Homo sapiens: one gene and its partner. The protein of the gene in region 2 interacts with the protein of the main gene of each other region in a pairwise test. Each region holds a gene or a part of one and is shown on either strand. Other genes may lie near its edges.

Region 1 (3,500 bases), on a different chromosome or scaffold from region 2:
GCACCCCAACCTGGGCAACAAGAGAAAACCTCCAAGACAAAAAAAAAAAAAAAAGAAAAGAAATAGTTAACTAAAAGATCATTAGAAAAACATCCTACCGAAATACAGTGTGAGAAAAGGAATTTTAAGAAATCCCTAAAAGAACACAGCAGATGTATAGCATACAGTCACACAAGCCAGAGGAAAGACTGAATAAGGCAGAAGCAATATTTGAAGAGATAATAGCATAGAATTTTACAAAACTAACAAAAAGCATTAACTCACAATTTCAAAAAGCTCAATAAACCCCACATAGGCAAAGAAAACTACACTGGGCACATCACAGTGAAACTGATGAAAACCAAAGTCAAAGAAAAAATCTGAAAACCGGCCGGGTGCGGTGGCTCATGCCTGTCATCCCAGCACTTTGGGAGGCTGAGGCAGGTGGATCACCTGAGGTCAGGAGTTCCAGACCAGCCTGGCCAACATGGAGAAACTCCGCCTCTACTAAAAATACAAAAATTAGCTGGGTGTGGTGGCGGGAGGCTGAGGCAGGAGAATCGCTTGAATCTGGGAGGCGGAGGTTGTAGTGAGCCGAGATTGTGCCACTGCACTCCAGCCCAGGTGACAGAGTGAGACTCTGTCTCAAAAAAAAATAAAAATAAAAATAAATCTGAAAACCTTGCCAGAGAATGAAAGACAAATTTCTTTCAAAGGAGCAACCACAAGACTGACAACTCACTATGGGTATCAGAAAAACAATGGAATGACATTTTTAAAGAGAAAAATAAAATCACTGCCAATATAGAATTCTATCCTCAGCAAAAATATTTCTCACAAATGAATTTTAAATAAAGATGTTTTCAGACAAAAGCTGAGATAATTCACTATCAGCAGATGTGTACTATAAGAAATACTAAATATTCACTGCCCTGGTACTTCTCGGTGAGCTGAAAGAGGAAAAAAAGAAATACTAAATATTCTTTAGACTGAAGAAAAATGATACTAGATAGTAACATTGAACTAGATGAAGAAATTTAAAAAGCTTTCTTTGGAGAATGATAACACCATGTAGAGCCTCTTCAATTTTTGGTTTTGTTTGTTTGTTTCTGAGACAGAGTCTTGCTCTGTCACTCAGGCTGGAGTGCAGTGGGGCGAGCTTGGCTCACTGCAACCTCTGTCTCCCGGGTTCAAGCGATTCTCCTGCCTCAACCTCCCAAGTAGCTGGGATTACAGGCACGTGCCACCATACCTGGCTAATTTTTGTATTTTTAGTAGAGATGGGGTTTCGCCATGTTGGCCAGGCATGTCTGACCTCAAGTCACCTGCCTCAGCCTCCCAAAGTGCTGAGATGACAGGCATGAGCCACTGCACCTGGCCTCTCTTGAATTTTTTATTATATATTTATACTGAAAATACATTGATGTAGAATATATTCTGGAATAAATTCACAGTCTTTTAGAAATTATTAAATTTCATTCATTTTGTAGACAGCTGTAGGAAGCAAAATGAAGAAAATGTCCTTGAAAAAAAATCCTAACATAGTAAAAGAAGGACGCTATAATATATTTGGACTAAAGAAAAGGGAGTTGAGGAGCAATTTTAACACTGTTCAGGAACATTTAGAGTTCTAACATACACATTCCTTGATATAAAGTTAACAAAGATTTACAGAATACCTTTTTTTACATTTTAATAATTTATTTATTTATTTGTTGTGAGACAGAGTCTTCCTCTGTTGCCCAGGTTGGAGTGCAGTGGTGCAATCATGGCTCACTGCAGCCTTGACCTACTGGGCTCAAGGAGTCCTCACACCTCAGTCCACCCTCTCCCTCCCTCCCAGTAGCTGGAACAGGTGTGTGCCACCACACGTGGCTAATTTTTTTTAGTTTTTGTAGACATGGGGGTCTCACTATGTTGCCCAGGCTGGTCTCTCAAATTCCTGGACTCAAGTGATCTCACCCTGGCCTCCCAGAGTGCTGGGATCACAGGTGTGAGCCACTGCACCTGGCCATAAGACAGTTTTTAAAATGAGAAAAACTGGTGTCAGGGAGGTTAAGCAATGGTCTTATAACAAGTACAAAGCAGAATAGCATTGCCCTGAAAGATGTGGTCCTTCCATCCCTGATACTCCAGGATGATTTGAGACAGTCAAGTATTATACTTTACTTCCACTAGAAGGCAGAAAATGATGTGAATATCCACCTTATTTAAATCAAGCAAGAGAAAAAAACTGGTTCACTAAGGCTGTAATGCATTTAGAAACAATCAATTTAAATTCTTTTTTTTTTTTTTTGAGACAGAGTCTCGCTTTGTCACCCAGGCTGGAGAGCAGTGGCGTGATCTCAGCTCACTGCAACCTCTGCCTCCCAGGTTCAAGCGATTCTCCTGCCTCAGCCTCCCAAGTAGCTGGGATTACAGGCCTGTGCCACCACACCCACCTAATTTTTGTATTTTTAGTAGACACGGGGTTTCGCCATGTTGGCCAGACTGGTCTCGAACTCCTGACCTCAGGTGATCCGCCCCCGCCCTGGCCTCCCAAAGTGCTGGGATTACAGGCGTAAGCCACTGCGCCTGGCCTGAATTTTTAGTAGAGACAGGATTTCACCATATTGCTCAGGATGGTCTTGAACTCCTGACCTCAAGTAATCCACCCGCCTTGGCCTCCCAAAGTGCTGGGATTACAGGCGTGAGCCACTGCACCTGGTCCATATAATTAATTTCTGTTGTGATTCACTATTATTCTAATAGAAATAAACTCCTGGCTAGCAAAATAAATAACTTGAAAATATCTTTTCCCCTGCCCCCAAATTACTATTTAATATGTCTTCTTCAATACTGCCATACTTGGAATTTATTCTTGATAACTTATCTTTTATAAGTAAATTGATTTACATTAACTTTAGTCAACCACCTTTCACAAGGGATTTTATTATATTTCTTTTTTTTTTTTTTTTTTTTTTTTTTGGAGAGACGGAGTCTCACCATGTTGGCCAGGCTAGTCTCAAACTCCTGGCCTCAAGTGATACTCCCACCTCAGCCTCCCAAAGTGCTGAGATTATGGCACCTGGACATTTTATTGTATTTCTTACACATTTAAACATTTTTAAAGTTGAAGATTACAAACTGTTGGGCACATTTAGGAAAATTTTATTTATCTAAAACTCATCACCTTTTTTTTTTTTTTTTTTTGCTTTTTGTTTTGAGACGGAGTCTCGCTCTGTCGCTCAGGCTGGAGTGCAATGGCGTGATCTCAGCTCACTGCAACCTCCGCCTCCCAGGTTCAAGTGATTCTCCTGCCTCAACCTCCTGAGTAGCTGGGATTACAGGTGCGTGGCTACCACACCCAGCTAATTTTTGTATTTTTAGTAGAGGCGGGGTTTCATCATGTTGGTCAGTTTGGTCTTGAACTCCTGACCTCGAGATCTGCCCACCTCAGCCTCTCAAAGTGCTGGGATCATAAGTGTGAGCCACTGCACGCGGCTGAGTATGTATTTTTTTTTACTTTTTTTTTCTGCTCA
Region 2 (3,500 bases):
CATGATATTAGAGAGAGGTTTCTTAAACGAGGCACAAAAAGCAATAATCACAAGACTGATAAATTTAACATTAAAATTAAATATTTCCATTTCTCAAAATACCACAGGAAAAAAAAAGTCACAAGAGTAGAAGATATTGCAAAACACACCAACTAACAAACCGGTATCCTGAATATATAAGCGCATATAAATCTGTAAGAAAGATAATGCAGAAGAAAAATGTACATCTCACGAAGGAGGAAATAAATGGCCAATAAACATTTTTAAATGACCAACCAGGTTAACAATTAGGCAAATGCACACTGAAACGGCAATGAGCTACACACTTAGCAGAATGGCAAAAAAAATTTAAAACCTAACATCCAAGAACTGATGAAGCTGTAAAACAATGAAACTAAAATACTGCAGTTGAGAATATAATTTGTTACACCCACTGTAGACAAGTGTGGCCTTCACTCCTAGGTATACATACCCTGGGAAACTGGCACAAACACATCAAGAGATGTTCACAGCAGCAGCATTATTAGTAACAACAAAAATCAAAAACTGGGCCGGGTGCGGTGGCTCACTTAGGGAGGCTGAGGTCAGGAGTTCGAGACTAGCCTGGCCAACACGGCAAAACCCCACCTCTACTAAAAATACAAAAATTAGCCGGGTGTGGTGGCGTGCACCTGTAATCCCAGCCTGGATGACAGACTGAGACTCCATCTCAAAATAAAATAAAATAAAATAAACATAAAAAACTGGAGATCACCTACATTTCCCATCAACAGAACAGATAGATATGTTGTGATATAGTCACACAATGGAATAGAAATCTTAAAATTATATACTTTTTTTTTTTCACTAAAGGAAGCCAGATATAGGCCAGGCATGGTGGCTCATGCCTATAATCCCAGCACTTTGGGGAGATCAAGGTGGGTGGATTGCTTGAGCCCAGGAGGTCAAGACCAGCCTGGGCAACATGACAAAGTCCCATCTGTAAACAAATTAGCCAGGTGTGGTGGTGCGTACCTATAGTCCCAACTATTCAGGAGGCTGAGGTGGGAGGATCACCTGAACCCCGGGGAGGTTGAGGCTGCAGTGAACTGTGACTGCACCACTGCACTCCAGCCTGGGTGACAGTGAGAGCCTATCACCAAAAAAAAAAAAAAAAAAAGAGCCAGCTATAAAAGTACACACTGAGAATAACTCCATTTCTACATAAAGTCTACAGACACTTCTAAGGGAAGTACTCTTAGACACAAAAACAAAGCAAAGCAAGGATATTTGTTACTGTCATAAAATGCAACCATGGTTAACTCTATGAAAGGTCAGGGGGTAGGAGGGGAAGGCAGGGGAGTTGATCAGGAAGAAGCACACAGGAAGCTTCTGGGTGCCAGCAGCGTTCTGATTCTCCATCTGGTTGCTTCCCAAAAATGTGTTAAACTTTTCTTCTATGTTGTGTGTACTTTTCAGGAGCAATGTTTTATTTCACAATTAAAAATGTTAAAAAACTACAGCTGACCCTTGAACAAAATGGGCTTGAACTGCATATGTCCACTTATACTCAGATTTTCTTCTGCCTCTGCCACCAAACACAGCAAGGCCTACCCCTCTCCTTCTTCCCTCTCAGCTTACTCAACATGAAGATGAGAATGAGGACCATTATGATGATCCACTTCCACTTAACAAATAGTAAATCTATTTTCCTTATGATTTTCTTAATCACGTTTTCTTTTCTCTAGCTTGTTTTACTGTAAGAATGCAGTATGTAATATATAAAACATACAAAACATGTTAGTCGACTGTGTATGTGATTGGTAAGGCTTCTGGTCAATGGTAGGCTATTAGGAGTTAAGTTTTTGGGGAGTCAAAAAATATATGTGGATTTTCAACTGGCCAGGGAGTCAGTGCCCCTAGCCCTCATGTTGTTCAAGAGTCAACCGTATTTAGCAGTGTAGAACCATAACAGTGTAGTTTAGAATCTGGCAAAGGCCCAGTCTGGTAAGCAGGTACTTTCACACATCTCTACTCTGACAGACAGGCCTTCCTGTATGATGACAACTAAAATAAAAGGGAGAGCGAGGGATGTATGTGTTCTGTATTAAGTCAAACAGCTTTCAAAGTGAGGAAACCATCTCAGCAGAACTTCTAAACACTGTACAAGTCCCCACGTGTCAATGCTTCCCACCTCAGCATACCTTCACTCGTAATTCCTTCATAGGAGGAGGTAACAGGAGGCCTCGAATCTGAGTTACAATGGGCCCTTCTACTCCAGGAACAATGATTGTATCTCCTTCCTTCAAACGCCCATTGATCAAGATGACATCTATAGTGGTGCCCATCCCCGGGAGAGCTTTAACCTAAAAGGCATTAATGCAAAGAGAAAGACATACATACAATGCACCATGTTCATTAAATCTAAAAGTAGTAAATATCCTCCACTCAAGGAACTTGCTATTTTTAAAAAAAAAAAAAACAATAAACTGAAAAGTTGATCATTACCTCCATCACCTGTGCTCTCAGCTCTTCACAGTGTGCAAGTCTCTTGCTCAACATGGTCTGAGTTAACTCTACAAGAAGGTAGATCAGACTTCCCATGCCATCACCAGTATGTGCAGAGGTAGGTACCAAAGACACAAAAGTGCGGGGATCTTTATTCTCATAAAACAAAGCAGCATTCAAACCCTAGGAGCAAAAATCATCCAAAATGCCAGGCTGTAAAGAAAACGTATCTGGAATAGGTGTGCCTCACTAGAAGCCGGATGAGCAAATGGCTCATCATTTTGAAACTCCTCATAAACACTAAAAATGATCATGTATATCCTATAAGCATTAACTGTATTATAGCAAAGTAGTTCTAAGTCAACTCAGTTTTCTAAATTAAAGTATTCAGACTGCAAAGAAAAAGGAGAAAAGGGAAGAAGAATTTAAAAAAAGTAATTGCTGTCAACAGAGGAAAAGAACCAGTATTAATGAAAATGCTGACTTCATTATAAAGATAATATAATACATATTCTGAGATAGGCTCTTCAGAAAGAAGGAAGGCCTTCTTACCTGCTGTGCAAATTCTACAATAATAGCCTTTGCTCGCTCCTCAAATTCATCTTTTGTATTCTTTTTCTGCTTCTTTAAAGTAGCAGCCACATCAGAGTCAGGACTCTTTTTCCAATCATATAACCTATCAATCTGAAAAAGTTTTTTCATGAGAAAGATCTCTAAAAAATTCAGAACATTCAAGAACTGTATTAATAGCTCCAGAAAATTCCTCATGTGTGTCTCATATATACAGAACAGTGTGACTTACTCATACACTTTATTGTACCAAAAGCTCCTTTCAGACTGCTTATCGGCACCTGCTCTTAAATTAGAAACTGCTGTGGTGCCATGCTGCCCCTGTCAGCCTCCATGAGTTCCTAAGTGGCTGCCATTTGTTTGCAAAAGATAACATCCTAGAATTATCCTAAGACTATTAATGTATATTGTTGGAATTCCGAAACAGTTTTTGTAACAAATCA

What was found.
Region 1: the proteins of EIF5B (region 2) and SRSF12 interact in a two-hybrid assay, tested with the Homo sapiens proteins (one large-scale study listed by BioGRID).

What each region holds. Positions count from the first base shown.
Region 1 is NC_000006.12:89,101,072-89,104,571, forward strand, and holds part of SRSF12 (serine/arginine-rich splicing factor 12), read right to left. Parts: intron 1-3,500. UniProt on the Homo sapiens protein: Splicing factor that seems to antagonize SR proteins in pre-mRNA splicing regulation.
Region 2 is NC_000002.12:99,389,389-99,392,888, reverse strand, and holds part of EIF5B (eukaryotic translation initiation factor 5B), read right to left. Parts: intron 3,172-3,500; coding exon 3,040-3,171; intron 2,671-3,039; coding exon 2,488-2,670; intron 2,346-2,487; coding exon 2,184-2,345; intron 1-2,183. UniProt on the Homo sapiens protein: Plays a role in translation initiation.